3 separate regions of the Homo sapiens genome follow, and regions 1 and 2 are each linked to region 3. The links come from fine-mapping of genetic effects on gene expression. A gene starts in region 3. Each other region holds a variant in brackets. All regions are shown on one strand. Distances are from middle to middle.

What was found.
Region 1: its variant is fine-mapped to the expression of ANKRD27 in whole blood (TOPMed, PIP above 0.99). The same link has a PIP of 0.9 or more in blood mononuclear cells.
Region 2: its variant is fine-mapped to the expression of ANKRD27 in whole blood (INTERVAL, PIP above 0.99).

The regions. Positions count from the first base shown.
Region 1 is chr19:32,592,710-32,600,889 of GRCh38, reverse strand. It overlaps ANKRD27 (ankyrin repeat domain 27), which reads left to right. Exons shown (of 29, transcript NM_032139.3): 27 at 840-918; 28 at 1,114-1,186; 29 at 2,512-3,884. The coding sequence ends at 2,745. Among named protein-coding and RNA genes, the nearest start is that of SNORA68B, 12 kb to the left of the region's middle. RefSeq lists enhancers at 7,192-7,691, 6,702-7,901, 7,692-8,180. The variant T/C (reference allele first, on the strand shown) is at 3,755.
Region 2 is chr19:32,851,944-32,860,123 of GRCh38, reverse strand. It overlaps SLC7A9 (solute carrier family 7 member 9), which reads left to right. Exons shown (of 13, transcript NM_014270.5): 8 at 160-283; 9 at 1,581-1,684. Among named protein-coding and RNA genes, the nearest start is that of SLC7A9, 14 kb to the left of the region's middle. The variant A/G (reference allele first, on the strand shown) is at 4,592.
Region 3 is chr19:32,670,769-32,678,941 of GRCh38, reverse strand. ANKRD27 (ankyrin repeat domain 27) reads left to right here and starts at 3,762. Exons shown (of 29, transcript NM_032139.3): 1 at 3,762-3,871. It overlaps RGS9BP (regulator of G protein signaling 9 binding protein), which reads right to left and starts at 3,094. Exons shown (of 1, transcript NM_207391.3): 1 at 642-3,094. The coding sequence starts at 2,678. The coding sequence ends at 1,971. RefSeq lists enhancers at 2,398-2,447, 3,218-3,327, 3,215-3,834 and silencers at 2,848-2,907, 3,478-4,207, 4,228-4,277.

The sequences.
Region 1 (8,180 bases), 78 kb after region 3:
TTTTTTTTTTAATTTACAATATGAAATATTATCCAGTGAGGTATGCAATAATGCAATACAATAATATGGATAAACCCATTCACATATCTCGATAACCCTGAGACTGTCTCACCGTAATTGGTTGTGGCTGGGGGAGTTAAGGGAGTTAAGGTTTTATTTTTCTATTTCATGGGGGTTCTCATAATACAGGCTGACTACCCCCTATCTCAAATGCTTGGGACCAGCAGTGTTTTGGGTTTTGGAATATTTGCATTATACTCATTGGTTGAGGATCCAAATCAGGAAATCAGATTCTTCTGAGCATGAAGTCAAAGAGTTCAAAATGTCTCGGATTTTGTAGCTTTTTTTTGAGATGGAGTCTTGCTCTGTCGCCCAGGCTGGAGTGTGGTGGTGCAATCTCGGCTCACTGCAACCTCTGCCTCCTGGGTTCAAGCGAGTCTCCTGCCTCAGCCTCTTGAGTAGCTGGGATTATAGGTGCGTGCCACCACGCCTGGCTAAGTTTTTGTATTTTGGGTAGAGATGGGGTTTCTCCATGTTGCCCAGGCTGGTCTTGAACTCCTGACCTCAAGTGATATGCCCACCTCGGCCTCCCAAACTGCTGGGATTACAGGCATGAGCCACTGCACCCAGCCTGTGGCATTTTAGGCTTTAGATTTTTGGATTGGAGATACTCAACCTGTTATAAATAGGTACTAGCTGTGTTTCTTTAAGCAAATTCAGTGCTTCAGTTTCTAAATTTTGTAAATCTGAGAATAGAAAGATTGTGTCTGTGCTGTAATTTTAAAATAATCTTTACAACTGTTTTTGAAGTTTTTAGATGTTTATCTTTTTATCTACAGGGAACTCAAAACTGTATGATCTACCAGATGAGCCTTTTACAAGACAGTTTTACTTTGTCCACTCAGCTGGTCAGTTTAAGTGAGTATGAAACTCAAGTTGATTTCTGTGCTTTTGCCCCTAGTTTACTCCAAGCTGCACGTAAGCTGCTTCAATTGTAATTGGTTATGGACAAATCTGCACCTACTAATGTCAAAAATGCTGCCACCTTGTGGCCAACCAGAGTGTTTCATGCCACTGTCCCAAATATTTATTTTCGTTTATTTTGGGTTTTAGGGGAAAGACTTCAAGGGAGATTATGGCAAGAGATAGAAGTGTCCCTAATTTAACCGAAGGTTCTTTGCATGAGGTAAGTTATTAAACACTGGCTTTTAATCATATTTTCTAAAGCCCGGCTTTGTCAAAAGTAATCCATGGTAAACACGTCTCCTTGATCGTCATCTTCATTATTCCGTGCGCCGTATGAGTTAGCAGCAGTTAAAACTGGAATTATTTCATGGGACAGTGTAGAGTACAGACTTCACTGATTGTTATAACTAAAAGTACATTTCTGAGCAGAGGAGTGGAAAGTGTTACATGTGTGGGAAACCACAGGTCTTGGTGCTTATAGGAGATGAAACATCCCACATTTCACTATGGTTTTAATCACCAAAGAAAGAAAACGACAGTTTGTATATAGATGGGTAAATGATGTCTCCAAGTATGGTGTACAGTTGCTCAGACAATTCTTTATGTGGCCATCTTCCCACTACATTTTTTTATTTATTTATTTGAGACAGAGTCTTGCTCTGTGGCCCAGGCTGGAGTGCAGTGGCACGATCTCGGCTCACTGCAGTCTCCACCTCCCGGGTTCAAGCATTCTCCCGCCTCAGCCTCCTGAGTAGCTGGGATTACAGGCATGTGCCACTATTCCTGGCTAATTTTTTTGTATTTTTAGTAGAGACGCAGTTTCACCACGTTGGCCAGGCTGGTCTTGAACTCCTGACCTCAAGTGATCTGCCCGCTTTGGCCTCCCAGTGTGCTGGGATTACAAGTGTGAGCCACCGTGCCCGGACCCTACTGCATTTTTAAATCACTCAGAAGCTTGATTGAAAACCTGTGATCGGAGACAGTGATTCTTCTCAGAACCACAGCTTTCCTTGTTGCTGATGAGAATTTATAGCATATGTAGCATAGGCTTGTTGGAACAAATACACAAAAGTTCTAAATTGTTTTAGATAATTAAAATGATTTTAATTAACATGACTAATTTTGATACCATATTTAGTCTTATGTGGTGTTGCTAGGAGACCTGCTGCTTTGTGGGAAAGCCAGAATCGTTGAAATCTGCCTGAGTTCCATCAAGTGCTAGCTTTTCCCTTGCTAGCTGTAGGACTTTAGGCAGGTGGCTTAACTTTGCTGATCCTGTTTCCTCAGGTGTAAAACGGGGATAACAATAGTAGTACATGCCTCCTAGAGTCATAAAGATTGTGAAAACAAGTGAAACATTTACTCTGACACATGTAGTATGCACATGCCATGTTACCACGACAGGGATGTGAGAATTGAAATTATGCCTGTCAAGCACTGAGCACATTATGTGACACTAGGCACTAAGGGGCAGCTGTCACTGTCATGGTTGTGGCTTCCAGTACAGTGAGGACGTCAACGGTTAAAAATGTACTTTTTCTTTAGCCAGGGAGGCAAAGTGTCACACTGAGACAGAATAACCTGCCAGCTCAGAGTGGATCTCATGCTGCTGAGAAAGGCAACAGCGACTGGCCAGAGAGGCCTGGACTGACACAGACTGGCCCTGGACACAGACGGATGCTGCGGAGACACACGGTAGAGGATGCGGTCGTGTCCCAGGGCCCGGAGGCTGCTGGCCCCCTCTCCACTCCCCAAGAGGTTAGTGCTTCCCGGTCCTAACAGGAATGAGGAGTTGTTGAACCCACTGCTAGGAAGCAAGGATGCAACAAGATGATGCTGAGCGTGAACACATCTGAGAACTAAATGTGCTTCCATGAGACTGGCTTGAGAAGTCTTCAGCACCAAGTTCCTGAAAGCTTTTCTGTGGCAGGAAAGAATGCAACAAAAAAGTTAACCACCACCATCTCTCTCCTCTTCAAAGCTAATGAATACAATTGAAACAGACAAAAATTCCAGTAGCATCCAGATCCTTAAGCCAGAGGTGCATGCTTCTTTTTAAGTATGAGGGTTTGTTGGTCACAGTGGGAGAGGTTTCACCACCGCATTCTGACCTCCTCCTCCCAAAAGGTGCTAAACCTCTCTGACCTGTGTACATTCACAAACCACAGCTAGAATTCCTCCACCTAGGATTAAGCTGGAGAGAAGTAAGTAATTTAGGTTTCATGGTACTGTAGAGGCCAGGCTGAAATGTCATATCTGAAGGAAGAAAGCAGCAGCTGGACAATGTTTCTTTGCAAAGCAACACTCGAACCAAAAGATGCCTCAATCCCATTTTGATATTCATTTTAGTGAAAGGATGCATCAGACCTGTTCCACATCATGCACATGGGAAAGGGTGGTTATCATTTTCCTTCTAACAAGTAGGTACAGATATTCGGTTACTACACGTGCACCTGTAGCAGTATTTCTAGAAACATCCCTTTTTGTTGAGAACCTCCCTTGAATGTCTGTCACACTCACACCTGACGGGATGGTTACTGGATTAGAGAGTAGATTTGGCACATCTTTTCTTAGTCTTTTGATTCAAATTCAAAACTTAACAGCACAAACCAGGTCAGAGTTACTTTCGGTTAGAATTTATTGCCATTTATTCCTTTTTATAAATTTCTATAGATTATACTGTTATTTTTATGTTATTGGCCTAGAGCTACACGTATATGGGTTTGTCCTGAGTCCGTTTTCAAATGACCTTGTGATAGGGAAATGGTTTTGTCCATGTTCTTGGAAA[T/C]ACTTGTGTATGTACAGAAGGAAGGGAGGGATTATTTTTCTACAAAGTAATTTATGATTTCTAATTTTCTAATGTGCCTTGGATATGTGCCAAATGATGGAAAAGAAACAGTAAACTTTATGATTCTTGACTGTGTCATGGTATTTTTTTTTAGTTGTTTGGCTGCAGATGATATGTTTCTCAGCCTGTCTGCTGTAAACATGTGCTTTGTGTGTGAGAAAAAGGGTCCCCATTGAATGGATATACATTTTTCAGTTATAGATGTGAGATTGAAACATGGGAACTTGATCACTTAGCTCATTATTCATCTACTGACCAAGGCCTACTTAACCCAGTAGGCACAGTGTCCCGGGCCCACAAAAATGTTTTTCTTTGGAAATCAGAAGAATAAAATGAATACAGCTTCCTACCCCAAACAAACAGGAAATGAGCCCTGTTGCTTTGCTAATTTCTTTGTTCTGATTTTTCCTTTTCCCTTTTTTTTTTTTTTTTGAGATGGAGTCTCGCTCTGTCACCCAGGCTGGAGTGCAGTGGCACCATCTCGGCTCACTGCAGCCTCCGCCTCCCAGGTTCAAGCAATTCTTCTGCCTCAGCCTCCTGAGTAGCTGGGACTATAGGAACCCACCACCATGCCCGGCTAGTGTTTTTTTTGTTTTTGTTTTTTTGTTTTTGTATTTTTAGTAGAGACAGGGTTTTTCACCGTGTTAGCCAGGATGGTCTCAATCTCCTGACCTCGTGATCCGCCCGCCTCGGCCTCCCAAAGTGCTGGGATTACAGGTGTGAGCCACCATGCCCAGCCTTCCCTACTTTTAAACAAAACCACCTTATAGACTGAAGCTGCTGTGGTTCTATACCATCCTAATTAATACATCCTATACAGTTTATCAGCACAGGTATTCTCAAGATACAAATACACACATTTGACACCACCTAATATGTTGGGGTAGTGCAATATAATTTTGAAAACATTTTCTTGAGATGATGGAGTCTCGCTCTGTCACCCAGGCTGGAGTGCAGTGGCACCATCTCGGCTCACTGCAGCCTCTGCCTCCCAGATTCAAGCAATTCTCCTGCCTCAGCCTCCCGCATAGCTGGGATTACAGGTACCTGCCACCATCCATGCCTGGCTAATTTTTATATCTTTGGTAGAGATGGGGTTTCACCATGTTGGCCAGGCTGGTCTTGAACTCCTGACCTCAAGTGATCTGCCCACATTGGCCTCCCGAAGTGCTGGGATTGCAGGCATGAGCGACTGCGCCCAGCTGAAAACATTTTCACATATACCCATTTAATTTCAACAATCACTGTGAATGGTAGAATTGTCAAATGAGGAAACAGGTTCAGAAAAATAAGGGGACTGCGAGGGATCTCACAGCCAGGATCAAGGCCTGGTTGGCAGTGGCAGCTGCAAGCTTGGTGTACCCTTCCTCTGGAGAGGTAAATGCTGTTTCTTTTTGAGCTATTCTGGTCATCAGTAATGTTTTCCATCTTAAGTGACTCCCTCGATTATTTTTAAAAAACAGTTGTCATCCTGGCCAACATGGTGAAACCCTGTCTATACTAAAAGTACAAAAATTAGCTGGGTGTGGTGGCGTGCGCTTGTAATCCCAGCTACTTGGGATGCTGAGGCAGGAGAATTGCTTGAACCTGGGAGAGAGGTTGCAGTGAGCCAAGATCATGCCACTGCACTCCAGCCTGGCAACAGAGCAATACTCCATCTCAAAAAAAAGCAAACAACCAGTTGTTTTTTCCAATTGCTTTCCCTACCCAAAACTTGATGTGACAGTTGAGAAATTAATGCCCCTAATTTCCATTTTTGTGGAAAAAAGTTTTGAATTCAAAGTAACGCAAGTTCACTGATTTAAATTAGAAAGTTTAGAATAACCACTCTCCACTCCCTAAAATGTACTCCAGCCTCTTATTGCCATCAGGAACCTCTCTCCTTGTACATGGAACCACTTTTCACTCTCAGGTAGGTGTCTGAAAGAGTCTGACCATCTTTAAACACACTCACAGCAGTTGCCATTAGGACAGTGGTTATCCTGTGAGAAAGCACAGAACTTGTGAACTGCCTCATGTCCTCCTAGCATTTGTATGTAAATGAGGCCTAAAGCAAAATTTACCTGTAAATGGGATTTTTTTCAAAATCCCCGACCAAATTTTTTTTAAATTACCAGTTTACCCTGACAGAAAATCCCCAGCCAGATTTCATCTTATGATCATTCTTTTAAAAATATGTTGATGTTCTCAACGGTTCTACTTATTTATAATGTTAGATATTGTTCTATTTCTTCACTGACAATAGTTGCAAATTTCAAATATAGTAGAATCTCCAGTTTAAACATGTATCAGTAGTATGCTGGCTAACGCAGAGACTGGGGTTTGCAAACCACATTTCCCTTCATTTTTTTACTAATCCTATTCACCTTGTTAAATTTATGAATTTAATCCTGTGCTAGGTCTCACAGGACTACGACATTTAAAAGGTTACACCAAACAGCTGGTTGATGGTTAAGTTTATGATTTAAATATATGAGCAGTGGCTTGCACCTACAGTCTCAGCTACGAGGGAGGCTGAGGTGGGAAGATCAGTTAAACTCAGGAGTTTGAGGCCAGCCTCAGCAACACAGCAAGTCTCCGTCTCTGAAAACCGTAACTTATGAGTGCAGGTTTTCATAACCTAGTGGAAAGAAAGCACAACAAAAGAGAGAACATTTAAGTCACCTGCAACATTATCAGTGATATGTTACCAAAATGTTTAAATGCTGAAGTGTCTCAACTGGATTTGAAATCATTAGAAGTCATTTCTCTTACAAACATGTTTATTACTGTAGTAGCATTACCAACATGTCTATTTTGGTCATTTTCTTTTTCAGTCATTATCACTCTAGTTATTTTGGAGGGAGTGGTATTTGTTAATATCAGTACCTCTGAAAAACAATTATAAATGAGATCAAAGCTAGCTTTTTTTTTTCTTTGAGATGGAATCACCCAGGTTGGAGTGCAATGGCCTGATCTCAGCTCACTGCAACCTCTGCCTACCAGGTTCGAGCCTCCCAAGTAGCTGGGATTACAGGTGTGTGCCACCACGCCCAGCTAATTTTTATATTTTTAGTAGAGACAGGGTTTCACCATGTTGGCCAGGCTGGTCTCAAACTCCCGACCTCAAATGACCTGCCAGCCTCAGCCTCCCAAAGTGCTGGGATCACAGGTGTTAGCCACTGTGCCTGGCAAAGCTAGGAATTTTCTTACATTAAGTGGAAGTAGTATCTGCAGGAAGAGAAAGAGCTTACCTGCTTTCAGAATCTACATCTTAGAATATTAGATGTGCTCAAATGTTGAACCTGATTCAGTCTGATGGACAGGTTTTAATTCCCCTTATGTTATTGGCGGCTGCTGCTGCTGCTGCTATATTTTTCTTCCTGAAGAGTGCTGGAGCAGCTTCTGTTTCCGCCACGGACACTTTTCCTATCTAATATTCATGGCACAGTTGCAAAGGGTAGAGTCATGCTGGTACACGTGCTTAAAAGCTTTTGGTCAGGGAGGAGCCAAGATGGCCGAATAGGAACAGCTCTGGTCTACAGCTCCCAGCGTGAGCAACGCAGAAGATGGGTGATTTCAGCATTTCCATCTGAGGTACCGGGTTCATCTCACTAGGGAGTGCCAGACGGTGCAGGTCAGTGGGTGCAGCCCACCGTGCGCTAGCCGAAGCAGGGCGAGGCATTGCCTCACTCGGGAAGCACAAGGGGTCAGGGAGTTCCCTTTCCTAGTCAAAGAAAGGGGTGACAGACGGCACCTGGAAAATCGGGTCACTCCCACCCAAATACTGCGCCTTTTCCAACGGGCTTAAAAAACGGCGCACCAGATTATATCCCGCACCTGGCTCGGAGGGTCCTACGCCCACAGAGTCTCGCTGACTGCAAGGCGGCAGCGAGGCTGGGGGAGGGGCGCCCGCCATTGCCCAGGCTTGCTTAGGTAAACAAAGCAGCCTGGAAGCTCGAACTGGGTGGAGCCCACCACAGCTCAAGGAGGCCTGCCTGCCTCAGTAGGCTCCACCTCTGGGGGCAGGGCACAGACAAACAAAAAGACAGCGGTAACCTCTGCAGACTTAAATGTCCCTGTCTGACAGCTTTGAAGAGAGCAGTGGTTCTCCCAGCACGCAGCTGGAGATCTGAGAATGGGCAGACTGCCTCCTCAAGTGGATCCCTGACTCCTGACCCGCCTAACTGGGAGGCACCCCCCAGTAGGGGCAGACTGACACTTCACACGGCCAGGTACTCTGAGACAAAACTTCCTGAGGAATGATCAGACAACAGCATTCGCGGTTCATGAAAAACCGCTGTTCTGCAAACACCACTGCTGATACCCAGGCAAACAGGGTCTGGAGTGGACCTCTAGCAAACTCCAACAGACCTGCAGCTGAGGG
Region 2 (8,180 bases), 180 kb before region 3:
GTCTGAGAGAGGCAGCATTCTCATTTGAAAATGTCTTATGTTCCTGCTGGGCCTCTGCTACCTGCGAATCTTCTCCCTGGGAGGGCCTCAGGGAGGGCGTCCATCTTCCGCGGGAGGCTGTGGTCTGAACGTGGGTCTCCGTGTCATTGCCCCTCCCAGAAACCTGCCTTTGGCCATTATCATCGGGATCCCCCTGGTGACGGCGTGCTACATCCTCATGAACGTGTCCTACTTCACCGTGATGACTGCCACCGAACTCCTGCAGTCCCAGGCGGTGGCTGTGGTGAGTGCCCGGGCATCGCTGCTGGCGGGGGCTGTGGCTTGTGGGAAGGGGTAAGGCAGGTGTCAGCACTGGAGGTGAGCTCCCTCCCAGGGAAGGAGGGCGATATTCACGGACGGGGACATGGACTGGGCACGCACGGCATGGAGCTGGAGGCAGGGCCGGGCTAGCCAGGGTGAGGGTTCGGCAGGCAAGCATGAAGCAGAGGCAGAAAGTGCCAGGGAGTCGGGGGAGGTCATTATATTAGGTCATTATATATTAAAAAATATATATATTTTTGGCAAAACTGGCAATTACTTTTGCACCACCCTAAATAATAATGAATCATAGAAGGTGAGAGGTGAGAGGCATTGGGGTCAGTGAAGAGGTGGCTGGGGGCCTCCTGCAGTTGCAAACAGACAACCACGTGTTGGGGATTTGGAAGGTGGAGGAGACGCAGTTTGGATAAGTGTTGAGGTCACTGACCACAAGACTGGGGGCTGCTGAGGTGGGAGGGAGAATTCAGCCATTCCGGTTGGAGTGGGGGTTCAGGGAAGTGAGAGGTGAAGGTGTCAGGATATTGAAATGACCAAGAATTACGCAGCTGGGTGTGGTGGCGAGTGCCTGTGGTCTCAGCTACTTAGAAGACTGAGGCAAGGATCACTTGAGCCCAGGAGATTGAGGCTACAGTGAGACGTGATCACGCCACTACACTCCAGCCTGGGCGACAGAGCAAGATCCTGTCTCCAAAAAAAATCAAATTAAAAAATAAAGATTTGGCCAGGCATGGTGGCTCATGCCTGTAATCCCAGCACTTTGGGAGGCCGAGATGGGTGGATCGCAAGGTCAGGAGATTGAGACCAGCCTGGCCAACGTGGTGAAATCCCGTCTCTACTAAAAATACAAAAATTAGCTGAATGTGGTGGCATGCGCCTGTAATCCCAGCTACTTGGGAGGCTGAGGCACGAGCATCGCTTGACCCTGGGAGGCAGAGGTTGCAGTGAGCCGAGACAGCAACATTGCACTCCAGCCTGGGCAATAAGAGCAAAGCTCCATCTCAGAAATAAATAAATAAATAAATAAATAAATAAATAAAGATTTATGCCAGGGAGTAGTAGATAAGAGACTTCTCTTGCCATCACAATATCTGGAGATAGGCGAGTGGCGTTCTCCTCTCTCCTCTGCAGTGGAGGAGTCAGAGGCTGTGCCCCGAGGCGAGGTGGGTCCCTGGGTCCCCTGGGAGGCCAGAATAGCTTTTGGGGGCCGGCCGCTCTTGGAGGCCAAGAAAGACCCTCAGGACTCATCTCGCTTCTCTCACCAGACATTTGGTGACCGTGTTCTCTATCCTGCTTCTTGGATCGTTCCACTTTTTGTGGCATTTTCAACCATCGGTGCTGCTAACGGGACCTGCTTCACAGCGGGCAGGTAGGGGACCCCCACCGTCACTCCCAGGGTGGACAGGGGCGGCGAAAGCAATATCACCCCCGAGGAAGACACACAGCTAAAATCCTCAGGGTTCTGCCAGGCGAAACCCACGCCAGTACAAGTAGGAGACCCAAATCCAGAGAAGGGATGTAGCTTGAACCCACACCGCAAACTGGCCAGGAAGGCATGGATGGGCCTGCACACGGGAATTGATCAAGGCTGCCTGGAATCTCAGCCTTTCCACTCCAGGGGGCCCTAGTTCCCAACATGGGGGGGAAGCTGCCCATGCTGAGGCGAAGGGAAGCGACACCGCGTGAATGAGGCACTGGTTTTCCACGTGGCACTTTTTACCTTTTCACCTAGTGATATTTTTCACATAGTGATATTTCCTGAACATCTTCCCCATGTTAATATATACAAACTAATTTGCTAATTAGCAAATTAATAAATAACCCAGAATTGGCTAACTTTCCCTTAAAGGGCCAGATGGTAAATATTCCAGGCTCGCAGGCTGCATAAACCTCTGTCACAGATTCTCAACTCTGCCTTGGTACCCAAGAGTGAACAGCCATGGTCATGTTCCAATAAAACTTTATTTGCCCAAACAGCTGTGGTTTGCCAATCCTTTAGACCCATCTGGTCTAGAGACTGCCACCAGCTGTGTTGTATCACACTTTCAGATGTAGCATAACTTAACAAATCCTTCACTCACACCTGGGTGTGGGTGGTTTCCATGAACGTTGCCGCAGTGAACATCCTCGAACACGTGTCTTGGCTTAGTTGTCCAGTGTTCTGAATGGATATATTTCAGAGTGAAATTGACAAAGTCTGTGTATGTTAAAAAATGAAATACCATAAAATCATTCTTCTAAAGCCAAACCGAAATACATGTAGTGCTAGGCCTCCAACTTCATTCTTTGTCAAAAGCGTTTTGGCTAGATCCTTTGTATTTCTTTATAAATTTTAAATTTAAATTTTAATTAACTAATTAATTTTGAGGCAAGGTCTCACTCTGTCGCCCAGGCTGGAGCACACTGGCATGATCTTGGCTCACTGTAGCCTCTACCTCCTGGGCTCAAGCAATCCTCCCTCCTCAGCCTCTGGAATAGCTGGGACCACAGGCACGTGCCATCACACCCAGCTAACTTTTGTATTCTTAGTCAAGATGGGGTTTCACCATGTTGCCCAGGCCCATTTCGAACTCCTGGCTCAAGTGATCCTCCTGCCTCCACTTCCCAAAGCCCTGGAATTACAGGCATGAGCTATCGTGCCCAGCCTTATATTATTTTTGAGATGGAGTCTTGCTCTGTCACCCAGGCTGGAGTGCAGTGGTGTGATCTCGCCTCACTGCAGTCTCCGCCTCCCTAGTTCAAGCAATTTTCTGCCTCAGCCTCTGGAGTAGCTGGGATTACAGGCACCTGCCATCATGCCTGGCTAATTTTTGTATTTTTAGTAGAGACGGAGTTTCACCATCTTGGCCAAGCTGGTCTTGAACTCCTGACCTCGTGATCCACCTGCCTCAGCCTCCCAAAGTGTTGGGATTACAGGTGTGAGCCACCACACCCGGCCGCCTTATTTTAAATTGACAAATAATAATTGCTTATATGGGCTGAGGCAGGAGGATTGCTTGAGGCCAGGAGTTCGAGACTAGTCTGGGCCACATGGTGAGACTCCGTCTCTACAAAAAGAAATTTAAAAATTAGCTGGGTGTAGAGGCCCATGCCTGTAGTTCCAGAAGCCCAGAAGTTCCAGGCTGCAGTGGGCCACGATCACACCACTGCACTCCTGCCTGGGTAACAGAGTAAGACCCTGCCTCTAAAAAATAACAACAATAATTGCATATATGTATGTGGTACAGTGTGATGTTTCAATACATGTAAACATTGTGGAATGGCATATGTATCACCTCACATACTTCTTTATGCTGAGAACATTAAAAATTCACTGGCTGGGCATGGTGGCTCACGCCTGTAATCCCAGCACTTTGGGAGGCCGAGGCGGGCAGATCACGAGGTCAGGAGATCGAGACCATCTTGCCTAACATGGTGAAACCCTATCTCTACTAAAATTACCAAAAATTAGCTGTGCGTGGTGGCGGGCGCCTGTAGTCCTAGCTACTTGGGAGGCTGAGGAAGGAGAATGGCGTGAACCCAGGAGGCAGAGCTTACAGTGAGCCAAGATCACGCCACTGCACTCCAGCCTGGGCAACAGAGCAAGACTCCGTCTCAGAAAAAAAAAAAAAAACCACTAGCTATTTTGAAATATACACTATTACTAACAATAGTCACCTTGCTGTGCAGTAGATCACCAGAGCTTATTCCTCCCATCATACTGAAACTCTGTAGCCTTTGACCAACATTTCCCCTTTTGCCATCCCAGGCCCCTCTTCCTTCAGCCTCTGGTAACCAGCATTCTACTCTCTATTGCTATGTTTGAATTTTTAGATTTCATGTATGTTGCAGATGATTACAACTATCTGGGCTGGTGGTACAGGGATAAGAAGAATTTACCAAGACAGCTGTAGGTCAGGAAAGGCAGATTTATTACAGAAAGTAGGAAAATACATTGCAAGGGTGCAATGAGCAGGTCAGCAAGAGAGGAACTGACTGCAAAGAGACAAAGGCTTGCTGGGGATTTTGTAGGATGGTGCTTGTGCTGTGTGCTGGACAGGGGTACGTGCAGTACTGATAATGCCAAGGTTGCAGTGAGCTAACTTGCATTTTTCTATTTTTTTTTTTGAGACGGAGTCTTGCTCTGTCACCCAGGCTGGAGTGCAGTGGCATGATCTCGGCTCACTGCAAGCTCCACCTCCCAGGTTCACGCCATTCTCCTGCCTCAGCCTCCTGAGTAGCTGGGACTACAGGTGCCTGCCATCACGCCCGGCTAATTTTTTTTTGTATTTTTAGT[A/G]GAGATGGGGTTTCACCGTGTTTGCCAGGATGGTCTTGATCTCCTGACCTCGTGATCCGCCCGCCTTGGCCTCCCAAAGTGCTGGGATTACAGGCGTGAGCCACCGCGCCCGGCTGCATTTTTCTATTAGCTGAGGGACTGGCGATCACTGGGCACAGGAAGCTTGTAAGTTATTTGTGCAGGGGGGCTATGTGTCCTGGACCATGAAGAAAGGCGGGCTTGTAGCTTATCTGTCTTATCTCTTTTGGCTTTCCCTTGGTCCCACCAGCCTGACTCATTTTCCCTAATTAGGACTCCATAATACATAAGGGAGATCATGGGATATTTGTCTTTCTGTGTCTGGCTTATTTCACTTAGCATAATGTTCTCTAGAGTCATCTCTGTTGTCAAAAGATGACAGAATTCCATTCTCTTTAGAGTCGGAATAGTATTCCATTGTGTATCTATTACATTATTTTTATTCATTCATCTGTGATGGACACTTAGGTTGTGTCCATGTCTTGGCTGTGGTGAATAACGTTGTAATGAACATGGGAGTGCAGACACCTGACATGTGGATTTCAATTCATTCAAATATATACCCAGAGGTACATAGGAGTGCAGGTATCTGGCATATGATTTCAATTCATTCAAATATATACCCAAGGCCAGGTGCAGTGGCTCACGCCTGTAATCCCAGCACTTTGGGAGGCCGAGGTGGGTGGATCACATGAGGTCAGGAGTTCGAGACCAAACTGGCCAACATGGTGAAACCCTGTCTCTACTAAAAATACAAAAATTAGTGGGGCATGGTGGCAGATGCCTGTAATTCCAGCTACTCAGGAGGCTGAGGCAGGAGAATTGCTTGACCCGGGAAGCAGAGGTTGCAGTGAGCCGAGATCGCACCAGTGCACTCCAGCCTGGGCGACACAGTGAGATACTCCGTCTCAAAAACAACAACAACAAAAAATCATTGCCCAGACCAATGTTACAGAGCTTGCCTGTTTTCTCCTAGGAATTTTACAGTTTCAAGTCTTATATCCATTTTGAGTAGATTTCTTGTCTAAGGGGTGAGATAAGGGTCCAATTTCATTCTGGCAGCTTTCCCACTTGCATATGAATATTACAATCAGCTTGCCAGTTTCTATAGTAAAGCTGTTGGGATTTTGATCAGGACTGGGTTGAATCCATAGATCAACTGGGGGAAGACTCTGCTGTCTTAAAAGTACTGAGTCTTCCAGCATGGGTACGGTGGCTCACACCTGTAATCAAAGCACTTTGGGAGGCCGAGGGGGAGGACTGCTTGAGCCCATGGGTTAGAGACCAGCCTAGGCAACATAGTGAGACCCCATGTCTACAAAAAGTACAATAGACTTAGCCAGGCATGGTGGCACATGCCTGTGGTCCCAGCTACTCAGGAGACTGAGGTGGGAGGATCGTGTGAGCCCAGGAGGTCGAGGCTGCAGTGAGCTGAGATTGCACCACTGCACTGCACTCCAGCCTGGGAGACAGAGTGAGACCTTGTCTCCAAAAAAAAAAAAAATACTGAGTCTTCCAATCCATGGGTGGACTATTTAGGTCTTTAATCTTGTTTTAACAACTTTTTTGTTTGTTGGTGTTTTTTTTTTTTTTTTTTTGAGACAGGATCTTGCTTTGTCACCCAGGCTGGAATGCAGTGACACGATCCTGGCTCACTGCAACATCTGCCTCCCAGGTTCAAGCGATTCTCATGCCTCAGCCTCCCAAGTAGCTGGGATTACAGGCATATACCATCACACCTGGCTAATTTTTGTATTTTTAGTAGAGACAGGGTTTCACCATGTTGCCCAGGTTGGTCTTAAACTCCTGGCCTCAAGTGATCCACCTGCCTCAGCCTCCCAAAGTGTTGGGATTACAGGCGTGAGCCACTGGGCCTGGCTTAATTTTCTGTAAAAAAAAGTTTTTTGAGTAGTTTTTGGTATATAGTTCTTGCACATCTTTTGTCAAATTTATTCCAAAGAATTTCATTTTTCATACTATTGTAAATGGTACTGTTAAAAAAAAGTTGCTTAATTTTTAGTTTCTGATAGTTTATTGCTAGTATACACAAACACAATTTTAACAGTTCTAATTAAGGTACAAATATAAAACTCACCCTTTGTAATTATACAACTCAATTATTTTCATAAATTTATAAGGCTGTACAAACATCACAATCCAATTCTAGATCATTTCCATCACCCCAAAAAGTTTCCTCATTGCCTAATTAATCCCTGCTTTCACCCGCAGCTCCAGGCAACCACTAATCTACTTCTGTCTCTATAACTGCTTTTTCTTGACATTTCATCTAAATGGAATGACATGGGCCAGGCGTGGTGGCTCACGCCTGTAATCCCAGCACTTTGGAAGGCCGAAGTGGGTGGATCACTTAAAGTCAGGAGTTCAAGACCAGCCTGGCCAACATGGTGAAACCCTGTCTCTACTAAAAGTACAAAAATTAGCCGGACGTGGTGGGCGCCTATAATCCCAGCTACTCAGGAGGCTGAGGCAGGAGAATGGCTTGAACCTGGGGGACGGAGGTTGCAGTGAGCCGAGATTGCACCATTGCACTCCAGCCTGGGTGACAGAGCGAGACTCCGTCTCTCAAAAAAAAAAAAAAAAAAAAAAAAGTTTATAGCTTTGGTCTTGTAAAATCTGGCAGGACTAACGCTCCCACGTCAGACTTCTCCTTGTCTGTTTAGCATTCCCTATACACTTAGAATTATTTTGTCCGGTTCCAAAAGTACTGCTTGCATTCTGATTTTATGGAATTTCTATATTAATTTCTGGAGGACTGATAAAAAGATTTGACAGTATTCACCTTGTGTCTAAATCTCCCTTCCATTAATCAACTCCCATCCTCCTGGTTTCACTTCTTTTGGGAATTAATATCAAGTTCATATCAATTCAAAGTTAAGATATGTAGTTGTAAATAGATGGGTCTTTGTGGCATTTGTATTGACTTCTAATTTTACTGCACTGTAATTAGAGTATGTGACCTTTATGATATCAAGTCTTGATTTAGGGTTTTTGTTCGTCGTTTTGAGACAGGGTCTCGCTGTCGCCCAGGCTGGAGTGTGGTGGTGCAATCATGGCTCACTGCAGCCTCAGACCCCTCCCTGTGCTTAAGTGATCCTCCCACCTCAGCCTCTCAAGTAGCTGGGACCACAGGCACGTGCCACCATGCATGGCTAATATTAAGTTTTTTGTAGATGTGAGGTCTTACTATGTTGCCCAAGCTGGTCTCAAACTCCCGGCCTCAAGCAATCCACCCACTTCAACCTCCCAAAGTGCTGGGATTACAGGTGTAAGGCACAGTGGCTGGCCTGATATCAATTCTTCTTTTTTTTTAATTTTATTATTATTACACTTTAAGTTTTAGGGTACATGTGCACAATGTGCAGGTTTGTTACATATGTATACATGTGCCATGTTGGTGTGCTGCACCCATTAACTCGTCATTTTAACGTTAGGTATATCTCCTAATGCTATCCCTCCCCGCTCCCCCCACCCCACAACAGTCCCCGGAGTGTGATGTTCCCCTTCCTGTGTCCATGTGTTCTCATTGTTCAATTCCCACCTATGAGTGAGA
Region 3 (8,173 bases):
ATTTGGCAGCACTGCTCAGGCAGATGTCATCCTGGGACCAAGGACCAAGCATTTTCTTACTTGTTGATCAAAAGAATTAAAGGCCACTTAACATTCTGTCATTTACACTTGTGTGGCTACTCAAGAATATAGATTTTATTTTGCAGTGAAATTATAGAAAAAAATAAAGAATATTGATTTTAGACTGAGCATAGTAGCTTATGCCTGTAGTCCCAGTACTTTGGGAGGCCTAGGTGGGAGGACCACTTGAGGCCAGGAGTTTGAGACCAGCCTGGGCAACATAGCCCAACTCTGTCTCTACAAAAAATTAGTTGAGTGCCGTGATGCACACCTTTAGTCCCAGCTACTTGGGAGGGTGAGGTGGGAGGAGAGCTTGAGCCCAGGAGTTCAAGGCTGTGGTTTGCTGATTGCGCCCCTGCACTCCAGCCTGGGCGACACCACAAGATCCTATCTCTAAAGAAAAATAAAAATAAATAAATAAATTAACTGCCTTAAAAACATTAGCCAGGTGCGGTGGCACACACCTGTAGTTCCAGCTACTCAGGAGGCTGAAGTAGGAGGATAGTTTGAGCCCGAGATTTGGAGGCTGCAGTGAGCCACAATCACACCATTGCACTCCAGCCTGGGTGACAGAGGGAGACCCTGTCTCAAAAAAGAAAAAAGTGGGGGGGGGGGAAGACTATCAACTTCAGAAGTAGATGAAATATATATTTAGTAATCTAAGTATCTACATAAAGATACTATGTTTGACTCATTGGCAGGTATGAGTTCATGGCCCAGCGTTCTTTATTAAAATAACAGCTTTCATAGTACACGCTGTGGTTACGTCATTTTTCTTTCAGAGTATTATTACCTTTTAAAAGCTTCTTAAATCCCAAGTTAAAGCTGTTACATTCTAACCCAGTCTCAGAGCTGATTGGCTCAAAACCTCTGTGGGCCAGTAATGCCACATTACCCCGGAGGGGCGGGCAGCGCGGGGGTCAGGGAGCTGCCAAAGCCAGCCCTCCTACTGGCCAGCACGCACATTCCAGGGGATAAATAGGATTAAGTGCTCTAAAGAGGATTCCCAGCCCTCCTGCAAAGGAGGTTCAAACACTCTGGTCTAGTTCTGAACAAAAATAAGCCCCAGAGAAGGAGAAAGTGCCTGTTTAAACACCAGGTGGCCCTACCCCAAGCCTCTGCTCTTCCTCTTACCCCCATCTCCGGGTGGCTGGGGAGAGCCCTTTTCCGCAGGCAAGTGTGCGCACTGGATCCAAGTCCGTGAGAGTAGGTTCAACCCACCCTCTTTGGTTTCCTAAATAGGGTCAGCCCCTGAGCGGCAGTGGGAGGTCATGACCTCAAATCTCTTCTAGCTGCTCTTGGGGACGAATGGATAAACTCTGCTAGGAAGGGCTGTAGCGCGTCTTAGAGAAAGCCCTTTGTATGAACTGCTCTCGGGACACTCTCCTAAATTTAGGCCCTGAAAGATTAAGGTAATAAAAGCTGCTGACATTTGATTGCAATTTTTCTTGTCCGGGAAACAGACCAACCACATAGAACCAAACAGCGTCCCTCTCCAAACTTCACTCCACCCCACCCACCTTTTCAAACTGTCCCACGCAGAAAGGGGGCGACGCTGGCAGGGGTGGGCACCGAACTCGGACTCCCTGTAAAGACGCCCCAACAGCACATGTGTTAACTCATTAACTCGGAGGGATCTAGGGTCACTGTGACGGTTTTCTATTAATAGGGAATAAAGCTCCTGCAGACGTTAGCGGTAATGCCCTGACGGCCGGCGCAAAGTTAACTCCTCCCGGGCCAGCAAGAGGAAACCGTGTCCTGCCCAGGCAGATGTGCACTGGAAACGCGCGTGTACCCATGCACACACGGGGTTTTAGGACCACTCCCCTTGCACAGGCCAGACCCCACACCCATCCCGAGTCTTTTCTCAGGGGAGGGAGCGGCAGCAGCAGGCGGCCGTCGGGTGTCCGTCAGCTCAGCTTCGCCACGCACACGGCTAGGGCCACAGCCGCCAGCAGCACGGCGCCGAAAAGGATGGCGGCCAGGGCCTTCCTGGGGTCGCAACCCCCCCCGCGCTCCTGCAAGGACACGACCGAGGAGGGGCCGGCGCTGACCGTGGACAGGAGCTCGGCGCCCGCCGCCTGCCGGGCTTGCACGGTCCAGCGGGGCACGTTGACCTTCATCTCCATGTTGTCGATCATCTCGCCCACCTGAAGGACCTCGCGCTCCAGCTCCCGCAGGTCCGCGACGTCGAAGTCGCCCTCCGCCTCGAGCCGCAGGCTGCGGGTGCTCAGCGCGCGCGCCGCCACGCCGGAGGAGGCGCCAGCCACACCTGTGCGCACCAGCGGCCGCCGCGGCGCGTGCAGCGGGAACGCGGCGCCCAGCTCCAGCGCGCGTCGCATGTCCGCTTCCAGCAGGTCCAGGCAGCCCGAGAAGGCCACCCAGAGCCGCTCGAACTCGGCGCGCTCGTCGGCGGCCAGGCCCCGGTCGCGCAGCACAGCAGTCAGCCGGGCGCAGGTGGACACCGCCAGCTCCTGCGCCTTCTGGCGCGTCTTTTGCAGCTCCTGCCGCAGGTTCTGCGAGTCCGCCGAGCCACCGACGGTCAGCACCAGGTGGTGGTAGCACGCAGTCGTCTTGTTGAGCCCGTCCAGCAGCGCCTTGCACTCCTCCCTCGCCATCGCGGTGGGCTCCGGCTGGGCCCGGCCGCCCGCGCCCGTTAGCCTCCCCCTCAGCGCGGCAGGATGTGGCTAACCCCCATCCCGGCCTTGGGCCGCGCGGCACGAACGCTCTTCATGGTCCGTGACTCGCTCGGCGCTACCGCCAACGTCCACGGAGCCCGCCCGGGACCCTCGACGTGCGCCTCTGCGGACGGGGCGCGCAGAGGGAGCCCCGTTAGCGGTCCCCCGCTCCCTCGTCCATCCTCCCCAGGCGCACTCCGAGTCACACGTCGTGTCTCTGCACCGCCCTGGCCTCCACGGTGGCTCCCTGCGAAGCTGAGGGTGCGGTCCCCATCCTCCGTGGGTGCCAACTCCGGGGCAAGCAGGCTGCAGAGCCGCGCGCTCCGCCTTAGGCGCTGCCAAGGGCGGCCGGGTAGGGTTTCCTAGGACCCGCCCACCCCGCTCGTCCCGGCCGGAGCTGCCACCCCCTGGATCAGTGGTAGGCGGGGCTCCACGCGGGGAGGTCACGTGTGGGTGGCCCATCCCTCCCTCCCCTTCGCCCCATCCGAGTTCTGGAATGTTAGCGCTCGGGAGATCCAACCCGTTCTATTTTACGGATGGGGAAACTGAGGCCCAGGTAAAAAGCGGGCCAGGCTCCCGCGGAGTTTTTGCCTGTGATGGGACTAGAACCCAGCTATACTGACTCCCGGACCCTGTCGGCGACAGGACGTCGGGTGCCCCGCAGGACTGGGCACCTCCGTGCCCCAAAGCGAGCAGTGACTGGCAATCCGAGGGGCTGGGCGCCGCCGGGGTCAGGTGTCCCTGCCGCGTTGCGCTCACGTTGGTCGGTGCTTCCAAGCGCTAACCCCACCTCTAGTGTCAGCCCGGCTCCCAGCCCCGCCCCTCACGTTCTGGGCACGCGCAGTTGCGGGCGTGGGGCGGGGCCAGCTGGAGTAGGAAGCGTAGGGAGCCGCCTGAGCCCCGCCCCCGGCTGGGCTGGACTCCATGATTGCTCTGCGTACACGTCACTCTGGGAAACGACGGTTTCTCATTGGGTCAGCTGTGGCGCGGCTCCGCCCCACGGCGGAGTAAGGGGTGGGCTATAGGGCCAGATCGCCGCGCGAGGGTGGTGGGCATCGAGGTCCCAGCAGCGGACGAGGGAGGTGCCGCCGTCGCCCAGGATGGGCTGGGAATGAAGCGATGTAGCCTTTTAAGTAAGTGTCCTCGCGCTGGCCTCCTCCTGCGCCTCCCCTCCCGCGGGATGGCTGCGCCTCGGGGCGCGGCGGCCGGGCGGGGCCCGGAGAGTGAGGGGGGAGGGGCTCCCTGCTCTCCGGAGTCCGCTCCCGGGTCCGCCAGGTGGCCCCGCGCCGCCCCAGCCCCCGCGTCCCCAGGTGGGTGCCCGGTGCGCAGCCGGCGCGCCCTGCCCACTCCGCCCCTCGGGTCTGGAGGAGGGGAGCGGTCGGCGCGGAGAATGCACCCTCCGAGCCTCGCTGCGTCGACACCGGCGGGTGTGGCCGGGGTGCCGGGTCCGGCGGTTCGGATCTGGCGGGGCGCGGGGCGGTCGCCGCGCGGTTTCCCGGAGGCCTAGGGTCTGCTGGAGGGGAGCGGCGGGTGGGGGTCCGAGCCGCGCGCGCAGCGGTTGTGGTTTCCGGGGGGTGATGAGGGCGCGGAGCGGGGAATCCCTGGCTGCCGGCCTCTCGCAGGGCGGGGGGGTCTCTGCATTCCCACAGGTAAAGATTGTTAAAGGAAAACTCTTAAGCACCGAGAGATGTTCCGGATTCTGAGTCTGTTCCGTCTTGTGGTTGAAAATGGACTGCCCAGGAGCACACGAGCCACGCGGTGCCCCCTTGGCTGCCCCACGAGGTGCAGGGGACGTGGGCACTCGCGGCCTGTGCTGGGCGAGGGAGCAAGGGACGGGTCTTCGCTGAGGATTTAGAGCATGCAGGGAACGAGGGCTGCTGGCAGTGCTGGAGGGACTGTGAGGCTGCAGAGAGCTCAGATTTTACAAGTTGATGGGTTTCATGGATAGAGGCCCCTATTTTGATTAAAAAATGCACTCTTCCCACTGGCCGAAGAGTAGAGCAGTGGATATTTTTTTTCTTTTCTTTCTTTTCGTTTTTTTCTTTTTGAGACAGGGTCTGGCTCTGTTGGCTAGTCTGGAGTGCAGTGATGCCATCATAGCTCATTGCAGCCTCAAACTCCTGGACTCAAGCAATCCTTTCACCTCAGCCTCTGTAGTAGCTGGGACTACAGGCGCATGCCACTATGCACGGCTAATTTTTAATTTTTTTTTTTTTTTTTTGTAGAGATGGAGTCTAGCAGGTTGCCTAGGCTGGTCTTGAACTCCTGGACTCAAGCCATGCTCTCGTCTTGGCCTCCCAAGGTGTTGGGATTACAGGCACTAGCCACCACGTTTTGCTGAGCAGTAGCTGTTACGTTTCGAGATCAGCCTGGCATGAGGACTGGTGTTGAGGTGGCCTAAGGGTCCGGTGTACTGAGCCCCGGGGCCTGCTGTCACCCAGGGGTCCGTCCTTTAACTGGGTGAGCAGTAGGCTGGGTGTTTGCTGCCAGGGCTTGGGTACTCCTGGCCTTGACCATTGTGTGGAAGGGGGGTTCTCAGCCACCCACACGCTACATAGGGTCGTTCCCAGGGGGATAGTAGTTTTCAGGACAAAATGGGTGGAAAGAGGGAAAATACTCTTTCCCTTCGGGGGAAGCTTTGGAGACAGCAGAGGGTGAGGAAGCTGCAAAGGTGGCCAGAGGCCAGATGTGCCAGGTCCTGAGCACCTAGCAGAGAAGTTGAGGGCTCACCTGGTGGGGAGTGCAGGGGAATCCTTTGAGGAATCCTGCAGAGCTCGGCGCTGGAAAGATCGCTTTGTTGTGTTGCTGGTGGACAGGCGTGAGTGAAATCCAGGGGGCAGATCCAGGAGGCACAGCCCGTAGGCCTTGGAAGGAGGGGATGCAGGATGGGAGCAGGAGCAGAGACTTCTTCTGACCAGCCATAGGGACAGGAATGCACCTGGGGATCTGACATTGGATAGACTTACATTCCCAAGTTACACCCAGTCTTGCCTGGTGACCTGAAATAATCTTGGCCGGCAGCTTCCCTGGGAGGGCAGGCAGAGGTGTCTGCAGAGGGCCGGGGGTTAGGGTCTCCGTTGTGCCTCTTTGTGACTGTTAGACTGTGTCTCCCTCACCAAGACAGCTGCTGGGTCTTTGTTAGTGATGTTTCTGTGTCCCAGTTAAGGTTTCTGTGGCATCTGCCCTGCTGGGGCTCTTCCTGTCTGTCATTTGCCAGCATTAGGTTGGTGTCCAATGACTCCATCCTCTCATAGAGGAGTGGAGGAATGTGACCATGTCATGATAGGTACCAATCCTAGAAAGGATTCAGCCCAGAAGGATCCAGACTTGATTTGTCCTGAGGTTGATTCTCCATCTGAGGAACACTGAGAAGCGGCCCTAGAGCTCCTGCCCATCTGCCCAAGATACTGGTGGAGGGTGCATGGTGGTTCTTCTCCCTGTGGTCCGGGAACAGGGTGATGCGGTGGCATTCGGAGGGGCTGTTGTGCTCCTCCAAACTTTCCCGCTCCCTGCATGGTCCCGCCCTGGTTCCAGTCCTGGCTTCTCTCTAGCCCTGCCCATTCCAGCTATCACTGTGTTGGGCTGGCACTGAGCATCCTGATTGTTTTGGGCTTTTTGCCTTTGTGCTTGCTTGGCTATGACCTGGGGTTAGCCCCTCACCTACCCTGGATATGGACAGTGGAGTTCCAGCTCTTGTGAGAGATGACCTCTCCCTGGGAGCTGGGGCTTCCTCTTAATGCCCCACTATCGTTTTGTTCAAGTGGGTGAGCAGTTACTCCATCTCTGCAGGGAACCAGGCGCAGGGCTGGGTGCTTTAATGAGAAGCTTTGAGAAGAATATGGACAGGATCTCTAAATGTTATAGGTCAGGAGGACACAAGTGACTGTAACAGCATACATACATCACCACATTGCTTCCATTGGTGTGAAAAATAGATGAATAGAAAGTTTTCGTTTTTCGCCTTTTCCTTCTGAATCATAAATTAGACCAAATGGAGAATACTGCTTATCTGTTGGGAAGCGTTCCTGGTCAGAGTGTTTGGTCAGAGCCCCGGAAGGGCGGGAACGGCCATCGCAGTGAGATTTCAGCAGGGAGTGCATCTCTAAGGAGGCTGAATTCCCCCATGCTGAATTCTGCTGAGCTGGGCTGCACGCTGTCACCAGACGGTTCTTGACCACCCAGACTTATCTGGGCTAGCAGGACGGTTGAAGACCACAAAACCACGAGTGTGCACGCTGCTCCCTGAAATACTAGTTTGAGGCCTCACATGGCTCTCCTGTTCATAGAATAACTGCAGATAACTCACATTTAGAGGTATTTGGTATCTCCAGCTAACTCAACTGGATTTTCTGTACATTTTCCCATCATTTGAGCCCAGGCAGGGATGGAATTTTTTAAAAGAAGTTTTATAAGAAGATTCACTTATCTTTCCAGTTTTACAAGAAAAAGTCCATTTTCTTTGCATGTTATTTTAAAATAGCAAACTAATTCTTTTGTTTGTTTTGTTTTTGAGATAGGTCTCACTCTGTTGCCCAGGCTGGAGTGCAGTGGCCCGATCTCGGCTCACTGCAACCTCCACCTCCCAGGTTCAAGAGATTCTCGTGCCTCAGCCTCCCAAGTAGCTGGGATTATAGGTGTGGGCCACCACAACCAGCTAATTGTATTTTTAGTAGAGACGGGGTTTTACCATGTTGGCCAGGCTGGTCTGAAACTCCTGACCTCCAGTGATCCACCCGCTTTGGCCTCCCAAAATGCTGGGATTACAGGTGTGAGCCACTGTGCCCAGCCAGCAAACTAATTCTTGCAGGTAAACTTGACAGGGTATAAAACTGTTTTTTTAAGCATTTACCCTTATGTAAGAATTCAACTCTGGCATTAAGCACCAGATCATATGAGATTATTACTTTTTTTTTTTGGAGACAGGGTCTTCCTCTGTCGCCTAGGCTAGAGTGCAGTGGTGCAGTCATAACTCATTGCAGCCTTGACCTCTTGGGCTCAAGTGATCCTCTGGCCTCAGCCTCCCCTGGCTGGGTGTGTGCCACCATACCCATAGATAATTTTTTGATTTTCCTGTAGAGACAGGGTCTCACTTTGTTGCTCAGGCTGGTCTTGAACTCCTGGGCTCAATCATCTGTCAGCCTCAGCCTCCCAAAGTGCTGAGATTACAGGTGTGAGCCACTGCACCTGGCATATTACAGATTTTTTTTTGTCATTTTTTGAAATGGAGTCTCACTCCGTTACACAGACTGGAGTGCAATGGTGTGATCTTGGCTCACTGCAACCTCCACTTCCCAGGTTCAAGTGATTCTTCTGCCTCAGCCTCCCTAGTGGCTGGGATTATAGGTGCCCATGCCTGGCTAATTTTTGTATTTTTAGTAGAGACAGGGTTTCACCATGTTGGCCAGGCTGGTCTTGAACTCCATCTCAAGTGATCA